Linked DNA regions of Homo sapiens. The protein of the gene in region 7 purifies or fractionates together with the protein of the main gene of each other region. This does not show direct contact. Each region holds a gene or a part of one and is shown on either strand. Other genes may lie near its edges. The genes, in order: PRRC2C, RRP12, AKAP8, HACD3, FAR1, MAP7D1 and KLF15.

Evidence for each region.
Region 1: the proteins of KLF15 (region 7) and PRRC2C purify together in Homo sapiens (affinity purification with mass spectrometry; one large-scale study listed by BioGRID and IntAct). This does not show direct contact.
Region 2: the proteins of KLF15 (region 7) and RRP12 purify together in Homo sapiens (affinity purification with mass spectrometry; one large-scale study listed by BioGRID and IntAct). This does not show direct contact.
Region 3: the proteins of KLF15 (region 7) and AKAP8 purify together in Homo sapiens (affinity purification with mass spectrometry; one large-scale study listed by BioGRID and IntAct). This does not show direct contact.
Region 4: the proteins of KLF15 (region 7) and HACD3 purify together in Homo sapiens (affinity purification with mass spectrometry; one large-scale study listed by BioGRID and IntAct). This does not show direct contact.
Region 5: the proteins of KLF15 (region 7) and FAR1 purify together in Homo sapiens (affinity purification with mass spectrometry; one large-scale study listed by BioGRID and IntAct). This does not show direct contact.
Region 6: the proteins of KLF15 (region 7) and MAP7D1 purify together in Homo sapiens (affinity purification with mass spectrometry; one large-scale study listed by BioGRID and IntAct). This does not show direct contact.

The regions. Positions count from the first base shown.
Region 1 is NC_000001.11:171,537,530-171,541,029, forward strand, and holds part of PRRC2C (protein PRRC2C), read left to right. Parts: intron 1-2,441; coding exon 2,442-3,500. UniProt on the Homo sapiens protein: Required for efficient formation of stress granules.
Region 2 is NC_000010.11:97,363,341-97,366,840, reverse strand, and holds part of RRP12 (RRP12-like protein), read left to right. Parts: coding exon 1-99; intron 100-219; coding exon 220-395; intron 396-607; coding exon 608-733; intron 734-2,937; coding exon 2,938-2,987; intron 2,988-3,500.
Region 3 is NC_000019.10:15,362,788-15,366,287, reverse strand, and holds part of AKAP8 (A-kinase anchor protein 8), read left to right. Parts: intron 1-3,500. UniProt on the Homo sapiens protein: Anchoring protein that mediates the subcellular compartmentation of cAMP-dependent protein kinase (PKA type II).
Region 4 is NC_000015.10:65,536,963-65,540,462, forward strand, and holds part of HACD3 (very-long-chain (3R)-3-hydroxyacyl-CoA dehydratase 3), read left to right. Parts: intron 1-3,500. UniProt on the Homo sapiens protein: Catalyzes the third of the four reactions of the long-chain fatty acids elongation cycle. This endoplasmic reticulum-bound enzymatic process, allows the addition of two carbons to the chain of long- and very long-chain fatty acids/VLCFAs per cycle.
Region 5 is NC_000011.10:13,727,668-13,730,256, forward strand, and holds part of FAR1 (fatty acyl-CoA reductase 1), read left to right. Parts: coding exon 1-16; intron 17-944; coding exon 945-1,107; 3' UTR 1,108-2,589. UniProt on the Homo sapiens protein: Catalyzes the reduction of saturated and unsaturated C16 or C18 fatty acyl-CoA to fatty alcohols. It plays an essential role in the production of ether lipids/plasmalogens which synthesis requires fatty alcohols.
Region 6 is NC_000001.11:36,176,660-36,180,159, forward strand, and holds part of MAP7D1 (MAP7 domain-containing protein 1), read left to right. Parts: intron 1-37; coding exon 38-183; intron 184-1,213; coding exon 1,214-1,542; intron 1,543-1,759; coding exon 1,760-1,937; intron 1,938-2,025; coding exon 2,026-2,164; intron 2,165-2,261; coding exon 2,262-2,366; intron 2,367-2,602; coding exon 2,603-2,656; intron 2,657-2,852; coding exon of another isoform or gene 2,853-2,855; coding exon 2,856-2,898; intron 2,899-3,006; coding exon 3,007-3,097; intron 3,098-3,214; coding exon 3,215-3,408; intron 3,409-3,500. UniProt on the Homo sapiens protein: Microtubule-stabilizing protein involved in the control of cell motility and neurite outgrowth. Facilitate microtubule stabilization through the maintenance of acetylated stable microtubules.
Region 7 is NC_000003.12:126,347,409-126,350,908, reverse strand, and holds part of KLF15 (Krueppel-like factor 15), read left to right. Parts: intron 1-3,500. UniProt on the Homo sapiens protein: Transcriptional regulator that binds to the GA element of the CLCNKA promoter. Binds to the KCNIP2 promoter and regulates KCNIP2 circadian expression in the heart. Is a repressor of CCN2 expression, involved in the control of cardiac fibrosis.

The DNA.
Region 1 (3,500 bases), on a different chromosome or scaffold from region 7:
TGTGTAGTGTTTCTGAAGATCATTCCAATTTAGGACTGAAGCATAAATCTGGTTTCCTTCTATTTAATTTAGCATGCTACGCTTACTCTTTGGACATATTCTCTGTATTCATTAGGGCATTTTGTAACCTGGTTCTGTACTCAATTGTATGCTGTAATTTAGTATTAGATGTTGAAATTGGTAGGTTCTTTTTTGAGATAGGAACTTGCTCTGTTATTCAGGCTGGAGTGCGTTGGTATGATCTTGGCTCACTGCAGCGTTCACCTCCCAGGCTCAAGTGATCGGCTTACCTCAGCTTCCTGAGTGGCTGAGACTACATGCGTTCACCACCACACCCCGCTAATCTTTGTGGGGTTTTTTGTTTTGTTTTTGTTTTTGTTTTTGTTTTTGAGACAGAGTCTTGCTCTGTCTCCCAGGCTGGAGTGCAGTGGCGCGATCTCAGCTCACTGCAAGCTCTGCCTCCCGGGTTCACACCATTCTTCTGCCTCAGCCTCCTGAGTAGCTGGGACTACAGGCACCCGCCACCACGCCCAGCTAAATTTTTGTATTTTTAGTAGAGACGGGGTTTCACCGTGTTAGCCAGGATGGTCTCGATCTCCTGACCTTGTGATAATCTTTGTATTTTTTATAGAGATGGGGTTTTGCCGTGTTGCCCAGGCTGGTCTTGAACTCTTGGGCTCAAGCAGTCTGACTGCCTTACCTCCCAAAGTGCTGGGATTATAGACGTGAGCCATCGTGTGCAGCCACTTGGGATGTCTTTATTGTAGAGTAGGTGTGAAGAAATTTAGGTGTATCTACAATGCTTATATAATATAGCTAGATGTAATTTTTCCATTAGTGAGATGTTTCTTTTTAACAGTATTTTAGGGAACATTTTTAAGGCCAAGATAAGGAGAAATACAATAATACAAAGTTAACTTTGAAATGGCGCACAATTGGTGATGACTGTAATAATTTATAGCCATACAGTTGGAACTTCCTGCCCTTTTATGGGCTATATTTTTTTGGTAATGTTTTATAATGTTTTATAATTATTTGTAATTAACTGGGACAGATAAGCTTACTCAAGTGTACTCTTTCATTCTAGGTGGAAATTACTGGTCTTGATGGATTAGAAATTCACATCAGCATGGTCTTAACTTTGTTTTTCCTTAAGGAATAAACTTCATTTATTTATTTCTATTTTTTATTTTTATTTTTTGAGAAGGGTCTCGCTCTGTCAGCCAGGCTGGAGTGCAGTGATGCAATCACAGCTCACTGCAGCCTTGACCTCCCAGGCTCAAGTGATCCTCTCACCTCAGCCTCCTGAGTAGTTGGACTACAGGCATGCAGTACCATACCCGGCTAATTTTTGTATTTTTTGTACAGACAGGGTTTTTTCATGTTGCCCTGGCTGGTCTCAAACTCCTGGGGCCCTAGTGATCCTCCTGCCTCCCAGAGTGCAAGGATTACAGGCATGAGCCACCGCTTCAGGCCCATTTTTTTTTTTTTAATGGAGTTTTGCTCTTGTTGCCCAGGCTGGAGTGCAATGGTGCCATCTCAGCTCACCGCAACCTCCGCCTCCCGGGTTCAAGCGATTCTCCTGCCTCAGCCTCCCTAGTAGCTGGGATTACAGGCATGTGCCACCACGCCCAGCTGATTCTGTATTTTTAGTAGAGACGGGGTTTCTCCATGTTGGTCAGGCTGGTCTCGAACTCCCGACCTCAGGTGATCCGCCCTCCTCGGCCTCCCAAAGTGAGGATTGGGATTACAGGCGTGAGCCACCGCACCCGGCCCTATTTATTTTTAATTGTGGCAGAAACCACTTAGAACATTAGATATATCCTCTTAACAAAAATTTAATCATATGGTACCATGTAGTTAACTGTAAGCAGTGTTATACAGCAAATCTCCAGAACTTTTTTTTATCTTGCATGACTGAAACTTTATACCTATTTCCTATTCTTACCTTTACCTATATTTCCTATATTTACCTTTACCTATATTTCCTATATTATACCTATACCTATATTTCCTATTTCCCCCTACTCCTAGCCCCTGGCAGCCACCATTATGGTTTCTGCTTTGATGAAGTTGATTATTTCATGTTCCTCATGTAAGATATTTGTCCTGACTGACTGACTTCACTTAAGCATAATGTCCTCAGGGTTTATCCATGTTGTAGCATATGACACTATTTCCTTCTTTTTTATCCCTGAATAATATTCTATTGTATGTGTATACCACATTTTCTTTATCCATTCAGCTATTGGATATTTAGGCTGTTTCCACCTCTTGGCTATTGTGAGTAATTCTCCTCTAAACTTTTTATATAGCGAGAGAAAGATTCTCATTATGGTTAAGAGTCATTGCTTTCTGTTTTAGAGGGATTATTTTGCTATATACTTACGCATGGGAAAGATTGCTTTGTTGATTATACCTTTGAATTCTTATCATCATAGGTCTGAAGCTGCGTTGGACCAGGAACAGATTACTGCTGCTTATTCTGTAGAACATAATCAATTAGAGGCTCACCCAAAGGCAGACTTTATCAGAGAATCAAGTGAGGCACAAGTACAAAAGTTTTTAAGCAGATCTGTGGAAGATGTTAGACCTCACCATACTGATGCAAATAATCAGTCTGCTTGTTTTGAAGCACCTGATCAAAAGACCTTATCCGCTCCTCAAGAGGAGCGGATTTCAGCTGTAGAAAGTCAGCCTTCCCGGAAAAGAAGTGTTTCCCATGGATCTAACCATACGCAAAAACCAGACGAGCAGAGAAGTGAACCATCTGCAGGCATTCCTAAAGTAACCAGCAGATGCATTGATTCAAAAGAACCAATAGAAAGGCCAGAGGAGAAACCAAAAAAGGAAGGCTTTATACGATCTTCTGAAGGACCAAAACCTGAAAAAGTATATAAATCTAAATCAGAAACTCGTTGGGGCCCACGACCAAGCTCTAACAGAAGGGAAGAAGTTAATGATAGACCTGTGAGAAGATCAGGTCCCATTAAAAAACCTGTACTTAGAGATATGAAAGAGGAACGGGAACAGAGGAAGGAGAAAGAAGGAGAAAAGGCCGAAAAGGTCACTGAAAAAGTAGTTGTAAAGCCTGAAAAGACGGAAAAGAAGGATCTTCCTCCTCCCCCACCACCACCTCAGCCACCAGCACCAATTCAGCCACAGTCAGTTCCACCACCAATTCAACCAGAAGCAGAGAAATTTCCTTCAACAGAAACTGCAACTTTGGCTCAAAAACCATCTCAGGATACTGAGAAGCCTCTGGAACCTGTGAGTACTGTTCAGGTAGAGCCTGCAGTTAAGACTGTAAACCAACAGACTATGGCAGCACCAGTAGTCAAAGAAGAAAAACAACCTGAGAAAGTCATCAGCAAAGACCTTGTTATAGAGAGGCCTCGACCAGATTCAAGACCAGCAGTTAAAAAAGAATCAACTTTGCCTCCCAGGACCTATTGGAAAGAAGCTAGAGAGAGAGATTGGTTTCCAGATCAAGGATACAG
Region 2 (3,500 bases), on a different chromosome or scaffold from region 7:
GGCCCGGGCCAAGAGGCACCGAGCCCTGAGCCAGGCTGCCGTGGAGGAGGAAGAAGAGGAGGAGGAGGAGGAGGAGCCCGCCCAGGGCAAAGGTGACAGGTGAGACCATGTTAGGGCCATGGGACCCGGTGTCCCCCCAACCCAAGGGCCTGCCCAGGCAATACCCGCTGACCCCCGCCTCTCCTGGGAGCACTCTGACTGGGGGCTTTTTGTCCTTAGCATTGAGGAGATTTTAGCTGACTCAGAGGACGAGGAGGACAATGAGGAGGAGGAAAGAAGCCGAGGCAAGGAGCAGCGGAAGCTGGCACGACAGAGGAGCCGGGCATGGCTGAAAGAGGGCGGTGGGGACGAGCCCCTCAACTTCCTGGATCCCAAGGTGGCCCAACGAGTCCTGGGTAAGCACAGGGCTGGCCAGTGCACTCAGAAAACAGACTTGCCATGGTGCCAGGTTCTCAGGTGGTGGGTAGGGGGTGGCATCCATGGCAGGCCCATGGACAGGGCTGAGAGGCGCCCGTTTGGGATCCCTGAGCCGGGCTTGTTGGTCATGATGAGGGTGAGTAGCATGGGACTGGCCTTCCACCTCCTCATGCCAAACTCTACACCCCAGCCACGCAGCCAGGGCCAGGCCGGGGCAGGAAGAAGGACCACGGCTTCAAGGTGAGCGCCGATGGCCGGCTGATCATAAGGGAGGAGGCAGACGGCAACAAGATGGAGGAAGAGGAAGGTGCCAAAGGTGGGCCCAACGCGCTTGTCCATTCATTCACCGTGTTCACTTATTCCTTCGGTGATCACTTGCTGAGGAAGCGTGGCTAAAAACAGACCAGAGAAACTCTTCTCTCGGCAGCTTCCTCAAACTTTTTGAGTTTCTCAAACTTTTTTTGAGAAACATTAAGAAATCTTTTTATGTTGTAACCGAGCCATTTATACAATACATATTTAACTTAAAGGAAACTATCGGAAATGGTACTTCCCCTTACTGTGTGTGATACGCTGTTAGTCTCTTCTGTTTTTCTCCTCCTCCTCCCCCTCCTCTTCCTTTCTCCTTTTCTTCCTTCCTCTTTTTTTTTTTTTTTTAATGCAAACTTGGCTAAGGCCCTGAAGATGATTTAGAGGCAGAAAGAGCCAGAGGCTGAAACCCTCCCAACTTCCCAATCCCAATGTCTCACATTGCCCGGGAGTCCCTCCGGTGTGGCATCTCGGAGCTCTCTTTAGTCTTTCCTGGCCCCTCTCCACATATCCAGCCATTAGCTAAGAAACACTTAGGTCTTCGCCAGGCGTGGTGGCTCACGCCTGTAATCCTAGCACTTTGGGAGGCCAAGGCGCGCAGATCAGGAGGTCAGGAGATCAAGACCATTCTGGCTAACACGGTTAAAACCCATCTCTACTGAAAACACAAAAAATTAGCTGGGCGTGGTCGCGGGCGCCTGTAGTCCCAGCTACTCGGGAGGCTGAGGCAGGAGAATGGCGTGGACCCAGGAGGCAGAGCTTGCAGTGAGCCAAGATTGTGCCACTGCTCTCCAGCCTGGGTGACAGAGCGAAACTCTGTCTCAAAAAAAAAAAAAAAAAAACACCTAGGTCTTCAAGAACACACCTGTCATCCCTTTGTTTGGTTCCCAGTGCTGCGAGCTCTGGGCCCTTGTCTCACTGCACCTCCTAACTGGAGCCTCACTGCTCCACATGCACCCAACTCACCAGCCACACGACTGCAGCCGCTCGGTCAGCCTCTCCTTAGCTCCGTTTCCTTGCTTCAGAGTGGATATCATACAATCCTAATACCCACTTTTCCGGGTTGGAATGAAGATGAATCGGTGTAATGGGGACAGCGTATGTACTTGGTGTACATGTGCCTGTTATATTTCCGTGTCTAGTGTCTTCTCTGCTCCTCTCTCGCCCCTGTATACTTTCCCATCTCCTGTCCCCCTTGGTGCCCAGGCATTCCTGAGGCTGTCAGGACCCCTCCCCTCTCTCTCTGCCTTTCCAAACCCCCCTGCTCTTCAGGATTCAGCTCAAAGCTCCTTTTGTAGCCCTTCCTGGGCACCTCAGCCTTTAGGCCTGATTCCCCCAGAACTCCTGCCAAGCCCAGAGGAAACCCAGTCTTCAGCCCTTGGTCATGTGCTTTCTTTGGAGATAGAGTCTCGCTCTGTCACTCAGGCTGGAGTGCAGTGGCTCGATCTCGACTCACTGCAGTCTCCATGTCCTGAGTTTATGTGATTCTCCTGCCTCAGTCTCCCAAGTATCGGGGACTACAGGCGTGCGCCACCATGCCCAGCTAATTTTTGTATTTTTAGTAGTGATGGGGTTTTGCCATGTTGCAGACTGGTCTTGAACTCCTGACCTCAGGTGATCCTCCCTCCTCGGCCTCCCAGAGTGCTGGGATTACAGGTGTGAGCCACCACACATGGCCGGTCACGTGCTCTCTATCGTCTTTTGGTTGTTGATTGACTTTGCCTGAGTTTCTCTTCCCTCCAATTGGTCAGTTTCATACTTTATATTCCCACATGGAGCCCAGCACATACTGCATGGGGCAGAGATTTCAAACAGGAGAATGAAGCCTTCCTGGCACAGTGGGGGTGTGTATGGGGCTGCAGGAGCGCCTGACTCCCCCGGAAACCTGGGGCTTTCTTCAAATCTCAAACAGATGAAGGGTGGGTGAGTGGGAAAAGAAAAGTTTCAAACGAAGCCATATTCACCTCAAAAGTAGGATCACCGCTTCTTTGAGGGGCCGTTATCCCTAGGGCCTAGGGTGGGAAGGAGAAAGGGGCAGTGCTCAGGGGTCTCATCTCTTCTAGCAGAAGGATGATATTGGTCTGAGGAAGGCAATTTTCTGGGGCCGGAGTTGGTGGCCCCGCAGCCTGGTGAGCCAGGAGGGGGCAGAAGGAAAGGGTAGGTTTTGAGGAGCTCCCACAGCGCTCATGGGCCTCTCTTTTTTGGCTCCAGGCGAAGATGAAGAGATGGCTGACCCAATGGAAGATGTGATCATCAGGAATGTGAGTAGTTCCTGCAGATGGGGGGCTAGGGCTTCAGACCTAAGCCTGGGCTCCACAGCTTCTCACCCCCACCACACGTAGACATTGGAACTGCCCTGTTTCTGGAATGCTCGGTGCATCCTCACAGGTGTGCATAGCAGGCGGTCCAGAAGGTTGTGGGTGCCAGGCAGGACAGGGTGATGGTTGTCTAGTTAAAGGAGAAAGAAGGCAGAGACCCTTGTCTCTCTAGCGAGGGCATGTGCTATGCAGGGGCAAGGGCAGCAGCTTCCCTGTGTGCTCCTGCATGGGGTGGGGGCATCCACCGTAGGGGAGCATGGCTGTGTGCCCAGCACTGTGCTGAGGGCCCCACATAGCCTCACGAAGATAGGGACTCCGTTGTCCCAGTGACCAGAGGAGCGTACAGAGGTAAGTAGCCTGCCCAGGGTCACAGGACTCAGTCTGTGCAAACCAGGAATTTGAACCCTGGTTTTCCAGTCTCCTAAGCCCAGGAATTCAACCTCTTTGCCACCATTA
Region 3 (3,500 bases), on a different chromosome or scaffold from region 7:
TAGGGGTCTTTCTCTGTTGCTTGGGCTGTTGAACTAGCCTCAAGAGATCTTCCTGCGTTGGCCTCCCAGAGTACTGGGAGAAGGGTATAGAGATGACATTTTTTTTTTACTACTTTTTGCTTTTTTTTTTTTTCTTTTTGCTTTTTTTTCATCTTGTATGTTCTTCCAATGAACAGGTGACTTTTTTTAAAAAAAAAAAAAGAAACCTTCAGAGTGTGCGCTAGTGACTGAGGATCTTTTTCTTTTTTTTTTTTTTTATCCTTTGAGATGGAGTCTTGCTGTGTCACCCATCCTAGAGTGCAGTGGCACGATCTCAGCTCACTGCAACAGTCCACCTCCTGGGCTCAAGTGATCCTCCTACCTCCGCCTCCCAAGTAGCTGGAATTACAGGCGCCCGCCACCACACCCAGCTAATTTTTGTACTTTTAGTAGTGACGGGGTTTCACCATGTTGGCCAGACTGGTCTCAAACTCCTGACCTCAGGTGATCCACGCACCTTGGTCTCCCAAAGTGCTGGGAGTACAGGCATGAACCACCGCGCCTGGCCATGACTGAGGATCTCGAAGGGACTTGGAGGAATTCTCACGGGGAGGCAGAGGTGTAGCAGGGAAGCACACAGCTCATCAGTAGCTTCCTGACAGTGCTGTGTATGAGCCCCGGGAGATTGTCCCCTCCCCGCCTACGTAGGGGCTGTCTGCAGAAGCGGAGGTGTCTTCATGTTGCTTGTCAGAGGTCAGAAGCCAGGCATGTGGAGTTGGCAGAGGTGAAGTCCTGAGTGCCACAGGGCCTGCACCCCTACACCAGAAGGGGCAGGAGCCTCCAGGAGAGAGCCAGGGAGGGAGCACCCCAGTGTGGTGGCCTGGGGGCCTGCAGGCTGCTCTCCCTTGCCATGCAGCGTGGTTGCATTTGGGGAGACTTTGAAAGCCTGTGACAAAGAAGCCTCACTTTTTATCTGTAGAATTTGATGTGACATGTCTTTACGTGTAGTCTCATGGCAGAACTGATACTGGGTTTTGTGTTTTGAATTGTGCGAGGTGTTTTGTCTGCACGTAAAATGAGGTTGCCTTATGTCATCCCAGTTCCTGCAGAGAGGAACTCATCTGAGAAGCTGTGAAGCTAGATGCTGGGCCCCAAGAGCTGCCAGCCAGAGCCTAGGGCGTCCCCAGTTCCAAGCAGTTGCAGCTTTCTGGTGTTTTCTCAGGGGCTTTGGGGCCAGAGGGGCTGCAGTGCCAGCAGATTACTATGCGAGTCATTTTCCTGAGATACCTGCAAGCCTGTGTTCCCATTCTTCAGCTGGGGAAGTTTGGGTAACTGCCATTCTGTTGCCCTTTGGGAAGTCGGAACTCTTGGTTCAGCAGCCACTTTCCCTGGCTGAGTGCGGTGGCATGCACCTCTAATCCCAGCTACTTGGGAGGCTGAGGTGGGAGGATCGCTTGAGCCCAGGAGTTTGAGAACAGCCTGAGCAATACAGTGAAATCTCATCTCGAGAAAAAGAAAAGTCTGGGTGCGGTGGCTCACGCCTGTAATCCCAGCACTTTGGGGAGGCTAAGGCAGGTGGATCACCTGAGGTCAGGAGTTCGAGACCAGCCTAGCCAACATGGTGAAACCCTGTCTCTACTAAAAATACAAAAAAAAAATAGGCTGGGCGCGGTGGCTCACGCCTTTAATCCCAGCACTTTGGGAGGCTGAGGTGGGTCAATCACGAGGTCAGGAGTTCGAGACCAACCTAGCCACCATGGTGAAACCACGTCTCTACTCACAATACAAAAATTAACTGGGAGTGGTGGTGGGCGCCTGTAATCCCAGCTACTCGGGAGGCTGACGCAGGAGAATCACTTGAACCTGGGAGGCGGAGGTTGCAGTGAGCCAAGATCGCACCACTGCACTCCAGCCTGGGCAACAGAGGGAGACTCCGTCTCAAAAAAATAAATAAATAAAATAAAATAAAAATACAAAAATTTAGCCAGGCTTGGTGGCGGGCCCCTGTAATCCCAGCTACTCGGGAGGCTGAGGCAGGAGAATCGCTTGAACCTGGGTGTTAGAGGTTGCGGTTAGCTGAGATCGCACCATTGCACTCCAGCCTCGGCAACAAGAGCAAAACTCCATCTCCAAAAAAAAAAAAAAAAAAAGGAAAGAAAAAAAATTACTGAAAATCCTGTTTCTTTTTTTTTTTTTTTTTGCCCACTGCCAATTTATTTATTTATTTATTTATTTATTTATTTATTTATTTTTATTGATCATTCTTGGGTGTTTCTCGCAGAGGGAGATTTGGCAGTGTTTGTGTCCCTGGGTACTTGAGATTAGGGAGTGGTGACGACTCTTGGCATGCTGCCTTCAAGCATCTGTTTAACAAAGCACATCTTGCACCGCCCTTAATCCATTTAACCCTGAGTGGACACAGCACATGTTTCAGAGAGCACAGGGTTGGGGGTAAGGTCACAGATCAACAGGATCCCAAGGCAGAAGAATTTTTCTTAGTATAGAACAAAATGAAAAGTCTCCCACGTCTACCTCTTTCTACACAGACACAGCAACCATCCGATTTCTCAATCTTTTCCCCACCTTTCCCGCCTTTCTATTCCACAAAACCGCCATTGTCATCATGGCCCGTTCTCAATGAGCTGTTGGGTACACCTCCCAGACAGGGTGGTGGCTGGGCAGAGGGGCTCCTCACTTCCCAGTAGGGGCGGCCGGGCAGAGGCGCCCCTCACCTCCTGGACGGGGCGGCTGGCTGGGCGAGGGGGCTGACCCCCCCACCTCCCTCCCGGACGGTGCGGCTGGCCGGGCGGGGGGCTGACCCCCCCCACCTCCCTCCCGGACGGGGCGGCTGGCCGGGCAGGGGGGCTCCTCACTTCCCAGTAGGGGCGGCCGGGCAGAGGCGCCCCTCACTTCCCGGACGGGGCGGCTGGCCGGGCGGGGGGCTGACCCCCCCCCACCTCCCTCCCGGACGGAGCGGCTGGCCGGGCAGAGGGTCTCCTCACTTCCCAGTAGGGGCGGCTGGGCAGAGGCGCCCCTCACCTCCCAGACGGGGCGGCTGGCCGGGCGGGGGGCTGATCCCCCCACCTCCCTCCCGGACAAGGTGGCTGCCGGGCGGAGACGCTCCTCACTTCCCAGACGGGGTGGCTGCTGGGCGGAGGGGCTCCTTACTTCTCAGACGGGGCGGCTGCCGGGCGGAGGGGCTCCTCACTTCTCAGACGGGGCGGTTGCCAGGCAGAGGGTCTCCTCACTTCTCAGACAGGGCGGCCAGGCAGAGACGCTCCTCACATCCCGGACGGGGCGGCAGGGCAGAGGTGCTCCCCACATCTCAGACAATGGGCGGCTGGGCAGAGACGCTCCTCACTTCCCAGATGTGATGGCGGCCGGGAAGAGGCGCTCCTCACTTCCTAGATGGGATGGCGGCCGGGCAGAGACGCTCCTCACTTTCCAGACTGGGCAGCCAGGCAGAGGGGCTCCTCACATCCCAGACGATGGGCGGCCAGGCGGAGACGCTCCTCACTTCC
Region 4 (3,500 bases), on a different chromosome or scaffold from region 7:
TCCAGTGAACACCCAAATGATAAGAAAGCAAAATATCCATATTGCTGATATGAAGAAAGTTTGAGTGGTCTGGATAGAATATAAATCAGCCACGACATTCTCTTAAGCCAAAGCCTAATCCAGAACAAGGCCCCAACTCTTTCAATTCTATGAAGGCTGAGAGGTGAGGAAGCTGCAGAAGAGAAATTTGAAGCTAGCAGAAGTTGATTCATGAGGCTTAAGGAAAGGCTCCATAACATAAAAGTGCAAGGTGAAGCTACAAGTGCTGATTGTAGAAGCTGCAGCAAGTTATCCAGAAGATCTAACTAAGATCCTTGATGAAGGTGGCTGCACTGAACAACAGATTTTCAATGTAACAGCCTTCTACTGGAAGAAGATGCCGTGGAGGACTTTTATAGTTAGAGAGAAGTCAATGCCTGGCCTCAAAGCTTCAAAGGACAGTCTGACTCTTTTGTTAGGGGCTAATGCAGCTGGTGGCTTGAAGTTGAAGCCAGTGCCCCTTTACCATTCTGAAAATCCTAGGGCCCTTAAGAATTATGTTAAATCGGCCGGGCATGGTGGCTCATGTCTGTAATCCCGGCACTTTGGGAGGCCGAGGCAGGTGGATCACCTGAGGTCAGGAGTTCAAGATCAGGCTGACCAACATGGCGAAACCCCGTCTCTACTAAAAAATAAAAAAAATTAGCTGGGCATGGTGGCGGGCGCCTTTAATCCCAGCTACTTGGGAGGCTGAGGCAGGAGAATCGCTTGGATCTGGGAGGCAGAGGTTGCAGTGAGCTGAGATCGCACCACTGCACTCCAGCCTGGGCAATAGAGAGAGACTCTGTCTCAAAAAAAAAAAAAAAAAGAATTATGCTAAATCTACTCTGCCTATGCTCTGTAAGTGGAACAACGACTCCTGGATGATAGCACATTTGTTTACAGAATGGTTTACTGAATATTTTAAGCCCACTGTTGAGGCCAACTTCTCAGAAAAAAAAAAAAAAAAAAAAAAAAATATATATATATATATATATATATATATATATATATATATATGTATATTCCTTTCAAAATATTACTGCTCATTGACAGTGCACCTAGTCCCACCCAAGAGTGCTGATGGAAATGTCAAGGAGATTAATGTTGTTTTCATGCCCGCTAACATAACATTCCTTTTGCAGCCCATGGATCAAGGAATAATTTTGACTTTCAGGTCTTATTTAGAAAATACTTTCCGTAAGGTTAAAACTGTCGTAGGTAGTGATTCTGTGATGGATCTGGGCAAAGTCAATTGAAAACTTTCTGGAAAGGATTCACCATTCTAGATACCATTAAGATCATTTGTGATTCATAGGAAGAGGTCAAAATATAAAAATGAACAGGAGTTTCGAAGAAGTGGAATTCAACCCTCATGGATGATTTTGAGGGGTTCAAGACTTCAGTGGAGGTAGTAACTGCAGGTGTGGTAGAAATAGCAAGAGAACTAGACTTAGAAGTGGAGCCTGAAGGTGTGACTGAATGCAGCAATCTCATGATAAAACTTGAAGGGATGAGGAGTTGCTTCTTATGGATGAGCAAAGAAAGTGATTTATTGAGATGGAATCTATTTCTGATGAAGATGCTCTGAACATTGTTGAAATGACAATGAAGGGTTTATACTGTTTCATAAACTTAGTTAATAAAGCAGTGGCAGGGGTTGAGAGTATACTCTGATTTTAAAAGAAATTATTCTCTGGGTAAAACAGTATCAAACAGCATTGCATGCTGCAAAGAAATCTTTAGTGAAGGAAAGACTCAATCAATGAGACAAACTTCATTGTTGTCCTCCTTTAAGAAATTGCCACAGCCACTCCAGCCTTCAGCAGTCACCACCTGGATCAGTCCACAGCCATCAACATTGAGGCAGGACCCGCCACCAGCAAAAAGATTACAACTCCCTGAAAGCTCACATGATCATTAGCATTTTTTAGCAATGAAATATTTTAAAGTTAAGGTATGTACACTGTTTTTTAGAATAATACTGCATACTTAATAGACTATAGTATAATATAAACATAACATTTATATATACTGGGAAACCAGAAACTTTGTGTGACTCACTTTATTGTGATATTAGCTTTATTGTGGTGGTCTGGAACAGAACCTACAATAGCTCCAAGGTATGCCTGTAAATTAAAATGATAGGATACTGTTTCTCACATTAGAGTAGGAAAATTGAAAAAGCCTGACATGACCAAGTGTTTCTGAGAATGTTCAGTGACAGGACTTTTTTTTTTTTTTTTTTTTTTTTTTTGAGATGGAGTCTCACCGTGTCACCCCAGGCTGGATTGCAATGGCTCAATCTTGGCTCACTGCAATCTCCGCCTCCTGGGCTCAAGTGATTCTCCCGCCTCAGCCTCCCGAGTAGCTGGGACTACGGGCGCCCGCCATCATGCCCTGCTAATTTATGTATTTTTAGTAGAGATGGGGTTTCACCATGTTGGCCATGCTGGTCTCGAACTCCTGACCTCAAGTAATCTGCCTGCCTTGGCCTCCCAAAGCGCTAGGATTACAGACGTGAGCCACCGTGCCCAGCCGGACTTTTTTTATACAGTTGGTGGAAGTACTAATTGGTACAATTGATTTGGAGAACAGTTTTACACTATCTTGTCAAGCTGAAGTTGTATGTCTTTATGAGTTGGAAGTTTTGCTTTTTAGAGAAGCTCTTACACATGCAGGTGGAGGTAGAATGTTCATTGCAGCAAAAAATTGAAAACAGCCTCAATTTTTGTCAGCTGGAAGAATGGATAAATTGTGGTATATTTATACAATGGCACACTGTACAACAGCTACAATGAATGAAACAGAACCATCTTTATAGAATTAAAGCTTAGAAATATAATATCAAATAAAAAGCAAGTTGAAGAATGATATAGGCAGTATGAAATTATTTTTGTGACATGTCAAATCATACTGTATATTGTGAATGCCCAACGTGTTTTAATGAATAAATAAATACAGTGGAAACGACCAACTCCAATCCTGGAGTAGTGGTTACCTGCGAAGTTGGGGCATGTTTGAGGGAGAGGGCATTGGGATTGAGAAATTGTATAATGTATCTGTTTCTGTTTTATTTCTTTTTTTAAAAATTGAGGCAAATAAAGCAAAATGCTAATGGATGTTAGATATAGTGGTGTTTGCTATATTTTTCTGTTTGATTTTGCTTGAAATATTTAATAATAGAAATCAATAAGTCTAAGCTGTTTATTACCACAGTACAAAAACTACTTATAAAGCAGTAAGTTAAATAATCTGGTAACTGTTGACCACTCACAATGGTCCAGGCACAGTGCTAAGTACTAGATATTCAGTAATGAGCAACACATATAAAGGCACTACCTTCAGATTGAGGGAGACAGACAATAGATATGTTAATAAATAATTACCTAGATAAAGTGCTATGAGGGAAATAAAGAGGGTGATGAAATAGAGAATAATTGGTAGAGGCTATTTTAAATAGAGTGGTCAGGGAAGGCTTC
Region 5 (2,589 bases), on a different chromosome or scaffold from region 7:
GAAAACATCTGAACAAGTGAGTTTGATGCATGGATTTGATTGCTTCTTGTCTTCCTTATGAAATATTCCACAATTTTTTTGGTAAACTGGTATATTTGCTATATCTGTCATTCAAAGATGCAGATAATTTTTAATGGTAATCTCTTATATTTGTAGTGCTTTTTAATGTGATTTTTATGACACTTTTTAAGACTTTCACATTATTATCCCTCTCATGCCTCATAACTCTGTGCGACTTTGCAGGGCAGCCAGTTCTATAGATGAGGAAATTGAGGCTTAGGAAAGTTATATTTGCCTAAGCCATATTGTATTGAGTGGCAAAGCAAACTAGAATATTGATCTTTGACTCCATATTCGAACCTCTTTTCTCTACATCATTTTTCTTACATTGCCGTCCTATCTTGCACTGCCTGCTGAGGTCAGTATAATTTATGTAACATTATTACATCTCTAAAGGTTTGTATTTCTTTCAAACACCATCAGAAACATCAAAATTTTTTGAAACATGAGCTGAAACATGAGAGTAACATATTGTTACTCTTTGAGAAAAGGGAGGATCCTCCTTTATCAAGTTAATGCCATGTTTTATGCTTGGATAAGGGCTTATCCACTTGGCCTTTGATCTTGTGACTGTCACCTGTAACTGAAAGAGTAAGTTACTTGTCTGACAACTTGTAAGCAACTAAAGATGTCAAAAAAAAAGTTTGCTCTATTTTGTCTGTACTGTGATGTATGTAATGAATGAACCTTTTTAGATTAGATGGGAAGCTCTAGAAATTCAAGGTACATATCTGTTTTACCTACAGTATACTTAATGCCTATCATAAGTTTCAAATTAATATGGATTTGAGCTTTGATTAAAAACTCAGTATTAATTAGCTGCCATCTAACAATATTTTTTTCTAGAAAATACTGTCTAACATATCTCTTGATTTGCTTTCCAGGTTGCGGAATATACGTTATGGTTTTAATACTATCCTTGTGATCCTCATCTGGCGCATTTTTATTGCAAGATCACAAATGGCAAGAAATATCTGGTACTTTGTGGTTAGTCTGTGTTACAAGTTTTTGTCATACTTCCGAGCATCCAGCACTATGAGATACTGAAGACCAAGGATTCAGCATTAGAACATCTATACATATGGTGATCTAAATGTACAAAATGTAAAATGTATAAGTCATCTCACTTTTTGTCAAGACATTAAACCATCTTAGATCGGAGTGTGAAGTAAATTATGGTATATTTTATGTAACATTTTAATGTTTATGCTCATAAAACTTAGTGAACACACTGTGTTATGCCAGCTCAAATCTACAGTAGCCACCAAAACCATGACTTAATATTTTGAGCCCTAGAAGAAAGGGGTGTGCTGAGGACAAGAGTGGGGAAATAGGAACACTGACCAGTATAACTGTGCAATTCTGGAACATATTAATTAAAATAATATGCCTTAACATATAGTGAATTTCTAATTCTAATGTTCAGTGCAATGGAAGACATTTATTTGGACAGTAATACTAGCAAAGTTGGTAGATATTTGATTCTTCATTTTTTGTTTTTTTCATTAGTTGAAGTGGGTTTTAGTTTTGTTTAAAATTATAACCAGCGTATTTTCACATCATTCTGTAAGTTAAATGATATCAAACATGAAAGAGATGTTCTCATTTTTCTTTTTCTGATTAAACGTCTGATGCATATCATTTTTCTATAAGTAATCAGTTGCTTTTAAAATCAGAAGGCTATATTATTCTAATGACCCTATTCGATCTAAATGGGTTTGAGAATCCATATCAGCAACATACGTGTTTTTTGACAGAAAGTGAAAACAAATTCCGTAAAACTGTTAGTATCAAAAAGAATAGGAATACAGTTTTCTTTTCCACATTATGATCAAATAAAAATCTTGTGAGATTGTTTATGTTTTGAAGCAGGAGGATTTCTTGAGATTTGATGGAAGTGGGAGTTGGGAAGGATTCACCATACTTGTGTTCTCCTCCCTTTATAAATTTTATTCATAGGACTTTTAAAAGGCTTGTGCTATCTTTCCAGTGAAAACTGAAAGTGCATTATTATGGAAGAATGTATTTGCAGGTAGTAATAGCATTAAAAAATATACTCGTGTGTAAACACATACTAATTTTGACCTTGAAAGATGAATTCCTTCAAGAAAAATAAAATAATGCTTAAGATAATGTGTACGAAATTAAATAAAGGACTTTATTTACATACTACATAAGGTAGCAAACTGTTGAATGAGTTTGAAGGTATCACTTATTTTTTATGCATGTGATTTTAGCTTTAGAAAGAAATGCGTTATAGAAACAAGTAATAGCAAGAAAATTGATGTATATTTTAATGATACATTAAAATTCCCTTTTAATCATAATAGTTAACTCTACTTACTGTTTTAACATACATTTGATTTAACAAATTGTTCAGCATAACACTTCTAATTAAGTTTATCAAGTTGTACTGTATTAGATAATCAGCAGTGTATCTGGAGTATGTTTAAAGAGAACAGTTCGCAATACAAAAAGTTACATGGAGCTTTACATCTTAACTTTCTTTGTCAATTTAAATGCAATGTA
Region 6 (3,500 bases), on a different chromosome or scaffold from region 7:
CCTCTACTCTCCTCTTCCGTTCCTCCTTCCCTGCCAGGTGCAGAAAAAGGAGAAGAAGGACAAGGAGCGGGAAAACGAGAAGGAGAAGAGTGCCCTAGCCCGGGAGCGCAGCCTCAAGAAGCGCCAGTCGCTGCCCGCCTCCCCACGTGCCCGCCTCTCTGCCAGCACCGCCTCTGAGCTCAGGTGGGCGCGGGCGGTGCGAGGGACCCTGCCCCTCACCGGGTCATTTATTCATCACCCACAAATATTTGTTGGGCAACCACCTCTAGAATGCAACTTCCCTGAGGGCAGATTCTCTCTGTTTTGTTTGAGACAGGATCTCCCTCTGTCACCCAGGCTGGAGTGCAGTGGCACAATCTCGGCTCACTGCAGCCTTGACCTCCCAGGCTCAGGCTATCCTCCCACCTCAGCCTTCCAAGTGGCTGGGGCTACAGGCGCGCCACCACGCTCGGCTAATTTTTTGTATTTTTGGTAGAGTGGGGGTTTCGCTACGTTGTCCAGGCTGATCTTGAACTCTTGAGCTTAGGTGATCCACCCGCCTTGGCCTCCCAAAGTGCTGGGATTACATGTGTGAGTGTAAGCCACCCCGCCCAGCCTCCATTTTTCTTTTTGTTCGTTTTTGTTTTTGTTTTTTTAAGTGTTTTGGTTACTGAAGTACCCCAACACCTAAAATAGTGCCTGGCACCTGGTAACCACTCAGTGAATACCTACTGAAGGGCCAGGGTAGTGCCTCACGCCCGTAATCCCAGCACTTTGGGAGGCCAAGGGGAGGATTGCTTGAGCCCAGGAGGTCGAGGCTGTAGTGAGCTATGTATGATGATGCCACTGCACTCCAGCCTGGGGGTCAGCCAGATTCTGTCTTAAAAACAACAACAACAACAACAACAAAACCTGCTGAATGAATGGACCTGTCAGGTAGCACTCAGGGTGCTGAGGACACGTTGCTGAGCTAACCCAAGCATGGTTTTTTCTCTTATTAAGCTTACAGGCTATTGGCGGGGGACATACAATAATCAAAGAATCCCACAGAAACATGTCATTACAAACTGGGGTGTATGCTCTAAAAGGGAATGGTGTGTTTCTGTGAGAGCAAGGGGGCGGGGGGCGGCGCTGATGTAGCCTGGGGGAGGGGGCACCTCCCAGAGGAAGGAACAAGTTCTCAGCGTGTGGGTGTGTGTGTCTCCTAACCCTTCCCTTTTCCCTTTTCTCTTAGCCCCAAATCCAAGGCCAGGCCATCCTCTCCCTCCACATCCTGGCACAGGCCTGCCTCCCCCTGCCCCAGCCCAGGGCCAGGCCACACTCTGCCTCCAAAGCCACCGTCCCCCCGAGGCACCACTGCATCCCCCAAGGGGCGGGTTCGGAGGAAGGAGGAGGCAAAGGAGAGCCCCAGCGCCGCAGGGCCCGAGGACAAGAGCCAGAGCAAGCGCAGGGCCAGTAACGAGAAGGAGTCAGCAGCCCCAGCCTCACCGGCACCTTCGCCGGCGCCCTCGCCCACCCCAGCCCCGCCCCAGAAGGAGCAGCCCCCCGCGGAGACCCCTACAGGTAGGAATGAAGAGAGGGGAGGGGTGGGCCGAGCGAGAGAAGCCAGCTTCTCCTGTGTGGGGGTGTGGGCCGCCAGAGATGCCTGAGGACTGGGAGTGGGACATGGAAAGAGGAGACTCCTGCCCTCAGCAGTCCCAGGCCCAGAACACAGGCCGCTGGGAGATGACGGCGGTGTCTGCGTGGGTGTGCTGACGCCTGATCCCGGATCCCCCTCCAGACGCTGCTGTCTTGACCTCACCCCCAGCCCCTGCTCCCCCGGTGACCCCTAGCAAACCAATGGCCGGCACCACAGACCGAGAAGAAGCCACTCGGCTCTTGGCTGAGAAGCGGCGCCAGGCCCGGGAGCAGCGGGAGCGCGAGGAGCAGGAGCGGAGGCTGCAGGCAGAAAGGGACAAGTGAGTGCGCCTCGGGGACTGAGGGGGCCCTCGTGGGCGCTGGAGAAGAAGCAGAGGCCGAGCCTGAGCCGTTTGCTCCGTCCCCCAGGCGAATGCGAGAGGAGCAGCTGGCACGGGAGGCCGAGGCCCGGGCGGAGCGGGAGGCGGAGGCCCGGAGGCGGGAGGAGCAGGAGGCACGAGAGAAGGCGCAGGCCGAGCAGGAGGAGCAGGAGCGGCTGCAGAAGCAGGTGCCCCCGGCGGGCGGGAAGCGGCTGGGCGCGGGCGCCGCGGGCCGGGAGGGAAGGCTGGAGTCAAGTGCCCCACGCTCATGGGGGTCTTTGGCAGAAAGAGGAGGCCGAAGCTCGGTCGCGGGAAGAGGCGGAGCGGCAGCGTCTGGAGCGGGAAAAGCACTTCCAGCAGCAGGAGCAAGAGCGGCAAGAGCGCAGAAAGGTGTGCGGACCTGGGCGGGGATTTGTGGGCGGGGCCTGGGCAGGGCGGGCCAGGTGGGCGGGGCCTGGGCTTAGAGCGGACAGGACGGGAAAGCGCTGGGGCAAATTCCAGTTCCTGTCCTGGAGAGGGCTGCTATGAGCTGGGAGGCCCTAAGACTCCGAGGCCGGGTCTGGCTGGTGGGAGGTTTAGGATTAGGGGCGGGGCTCGAGCCTAACTGATCTGCGGCCTCCAAACAGCGTCTGGAGGAGATCATGAAGAGGACTCGGAAGTCAGAAGTTTCTGAAACCAAGGTCAGAATTCCCCCGAAGGGCAGTGCTGGGCGTGGGGGGCAGGGTGTGAAAAGGAGGCTGCGGAAAGGCATCCATGGCCACGGAGAGCGAGGCTGTCAGGGAGGCCGCTGCGGCCCGGGCAAGGGGAGGGCCGAACTCAGTCCGAAGTGGCTGGGGCCGGCTGTCCCTTGAGCCTGACTGCTCTTCCTCTTCAAAGCAGAAGCAGGACAGCAAGGAGGCCAACGCCAACGGTTCCAGCCCAGGTAAAGCCCCCATTCCTCTCGCCTCCCTTCCCTTTGCCATCCTCCTCCTCCTCCATCCTCACCTCTCTTGCCAGCCCCTGGCTGATGGCCCCTCTTTCCCTGTGACAGAGCCTGTGAAAGCTGTGGAGGCTCGGTCCCCAGGGCTGCAGAAGGAGGCTGTGCAGAAAGAGGAGCCCATCCCACAGGAGCCTCAGTGGAGGTACCAGCTTCCAATCCCAGGGTCCCTGAGCAGGGAGGCAGACTGCAGCTGGAGCTGCGGGGTGGCCTGGGCTTTCCTGGGAGGTGAGGTGCTGAGCCTTGGCCTCTGCATCCACAGTCTCCCAAGCAAGGAGTTGCCAGCGTCCCTGGTGAATGGCCTGCAGCCTCTCCCAGCACACCAGGAGAATGGCTTCTCCACCAACGGACCCTCTGGGGACAAGAGTCTGAGCCGAACACCAGAGACACTCCTGCCCTTTGCAGAGGCAGAAGCCTTCCTCAAGAAAGCTGTGGTGCAGTCCCCGCAGGTCACAGGTAGATCTCCTGATTCCTGGACCCAGCTCCATTCCTCCCAGCAGCCTTCCCTGTACTCCTCAGCCCTGCCTTCTCTTCTGGCTCTGCCAGGC
Region 7 (3,500 bases):
GGCACATTCCAAATCTTTGCTGCTGTGGCTGCTGCTACGTGTGTGAGACGGGGCACACTCATCTGTATCCCTGGGGGTGTATACAGGCCTGGGCCTCGCCAGCAGGTGTGTGGCTGTGTGTGTGCACACCCACATGTGTATGCATCTTGCTTTCTTTGTGTCTGTCTGTGCCGTGTGACCATATGTGTTTGCACACATACATGTCTTAGGTGTTTGTGCACCATGTGTGGCTGCCTGTGTGTGCATGTGTTATGTGTGGGTGCAACACCCGGGGAGCAGTTTGCAGCTTTTGTTTTCTTGACCATACTCTGGTTCTGAGAGCTCTTGAGAGTTGTCTGGGGCAGAGGTTCTGGCCAGTGAGGCTGAGCTGTGGTCAGGGAGCTGTGAGTGGAATGTATGTTGTGGCACTGGTGCCACCTTTCCATTGAGTGCCAATCTGGCCAGAGAAGGGAATTTTCCTGAACAGTGTCTAGGTTTATGGAGGCCCCTCCTGAGTGAGGACATCACTCTGTCCTGTCTCCCACCCCATTCAGACAGACCGGAGAGGCTTCTGTGAGAGCCCACCCTGGGGCCTCACAAGGTCTCCATCCTGGAGTCCCCACCTCTCTGAGCTTTGTACCTAGGCCTGCCGAGTGGGTGCATGGCTGACAGGTTGCTTGTGAGAGGAGGACACAGCAGCAAGTACACTGCATAGGAGGTTAGAGGAGCCGAGAGAAGGGCCAGGAGTGCTCTTGATTGAAGCAGGAAACTTGTGCAGAGAAGGCGAGGGCACAGGTATGTGGGGGCTGTGGTCTTGAGCCTACGCCTGGGTCAGCCACTAACTTGTCATGTGCCTTTGGGGTGGTCCCCCTCCAAACCTCAGTTTCCTGTCTGCAGAGTGGAGGGCTAGCCCTTTGCAGCCCAGGGCAGGCGTGCAGGGCTCCACAGCGGCCTCCTTGTTGTTTGTACATCATAAGGATACAAACTCATACACGGCAGTTTCTGAGGAGGAACCCTGAAGGCATTCTCTCCAGCCCCCAAGAGGGTGGTGCCTATTGTGAAGGGACCCCCTACTCCCAGGGACCCTGTATGCACTCTCCTCTTGGTGAGGGCGGGCAGGGGCTGCAGAGAGGCAGGGAAACCTCCCTCCAAGCACCAGTCTGGACTCCTTAGTCGGGCTCAGGTTTCAGCGCCGTCTCCTGGCCATAGTCGACCGTTGGCAAGTAGCTCCTCTAGATGCCGTGAGGCTGGGTAGGGTGATGGGGAGGGCAGGTGTGGTCCTCATCCAAGGCCAGCCTTCTTCCTGGATATCTTAGGGCCAGAGAGCTGATAGGCCCCTCAGCCCAAAGTGTATCTCAGTGAGGCAGATCTTAGTTCTCTATACAGTGGCCTCAGGAGGTAATGAGTTCCTCATGGCAGGGGGTGTACATGAGAGAGTGGGGACCTGTGGAGGGGATTCAGCTCTGACACATCTGAGCCCTGGCACTGGTCGTGCTGCCCAGGACCCACTTGGCAAGAGAAGGTGTAGTGGTTGCCTGGCCCAGTGAGATCACAGTGGCACTGCCCCCAGGAGCTGTCCCTGCTGCCAGCCATGCCCCGGGCTTCCTGAGGGCTCCTCCAGCTTCCCCCAAGGTCCCCTGGAGTGGGTCTGGCCCTGGTGGGGTAACTCATGGCAGAGGCGCTGTTCGGCTGGGAGCTGAGGACACCGGCCTCTAGGGAGGGCTGCTTTTCTGAGGATGCGGGGAGTCCTCAGCTGGCTTTCAGGGATCTTGAAACCCTGGGGATGTGCCCAGTCTGCTTGTGTCTCTTAATGTGGTGATAGTCTTCAACTGAGAGGGAGCCCCTGCAGCTCCTTACAGCAGTCAGGAGGGAGGATGGACCCCGCTTTGGGGCAGCTGGGTCTGGACAGGACTGGAAGGGTAACGATGATGATGGTGAGATGGCGTATTTACTGACCACTCACTGTATGCTGGGCACTATTCTAAGTTTCTCAGAGCTGGAATCCCCTCCGCCCACTATTGTAACTTGCATACTTCCTGCCATGGGGAGCTCATTACCTTCTGAGGCCTTTAAGTGTACTTTGCTGTGCTTCAGTTTCTATTCAAGCTTCTCGTTCTGGCCCATAGACCCACACAATGTGCTTACCTGTCTCTTCCCCTTACTGAGTGGGATCCAGCCACGCTGGCCTCCCTGCTGTGGCTCAGGCTCCCGCGTGGGCATCCGCCCTCTCTGTGCCCTCTGTCTCAAATGACCCCTGCCCTTGAGGCTGTAGTGACAGCTTAAGGTTTTCGCATTAGCTCATCAGGTCCTTGTAACTGCCTGGTAAAGTGTAGGCACCAATCTTCATTTTACAGAGAGGGAAACTGAGGCACAGACTGCTCACGTCACATGCCCACAGGGACATAGCTAGTGAGCAAGGATCTGGGTTGCATGACTAAGCCCTAGCAGAGCCCTGCTCTGGCCACCTGGTGGTCCTAGCTGGTATCAGAGTCGCCATGTGTGCCTCCAGTCTCCCACCAAGAGGTCGGCCCAAAAGGCATTATGCTTCTGGGCTATGGGAAAAGAGCTAACGACCACAATCGAGATAATAACCAGGGCCTCTAATGCATACTTGGCACTGCTCTGAGCAAAATTCACACATATTAATTTACGTAATTCTCAAAATTAGTAGGCATCAGCATGTTGTCCCTATTTCACAGAGGAGAGAATTAAAGCACAGAAGAGTTAGGTAAATTCTCCAGTCAGCCAGCCAGTAAGCCCCAGAGCCAGGAGTTCAGCTGAGGCTGTCTGCCCAGAATCAGGGACCTCCCTCTGCACCCCGGTGTTGGGTGCTAACTCTGGTGTTGGGAACCTCCACCTCCATCTGCAGCTCAGCCTGGTCTTTGGGGTGGCAGCTCTACACACTCACCTACTCCCCGTGGGGGAGCTCTCCACTCCCAGGCCGCGTCTCTTCTTCCTGGTGGCCTAGATGAATGGGATGCTCTTTCTGCCCAGGCTGGCTCTGGCCTAGTACCATGTCCTGTGCTCGGAGAACAAGCCAGGGCCCCTCAGGCCCCTCATACCTCTGTGTAATGGACAGTGCCCTCCCTCCACTGCTGAGGTCGTCACCTGCCCAGGTACTCAGCCTCCACTTCCTTCTGCTTTTGGTCCTAAGAGTACTCCCTGTCCCTTCTCTGGTGACATGATTTTGGCACCCTCAACAGGGCTGAGAGCAGGCTTTCCCTGTTCTGATCCAGCCGTCTGGGAAGTGCTGCTTGCCTGCCTTCCTAGAAGTTTCCTTGCCTCACTGTCAGACATAGGCATCCTTTGTTCCTTGCAGCAGAACGTCCTGTTCCAGAATGGCCAAGCCATTCCATCCAGAAAGAATCCCTTCTGCTGCAGTGAATATGAATATGAATAACTGTCATCAGCCTGTAGGGTGGGTACTTTTGTCGTCCACAGTGGATGTGGTGGGGGACAGAGAAGGGGAGTTCCAGGCTCCTCTTGAGCGTCAGAGCCAAGAGGTGGTAGGTGCAGGATTC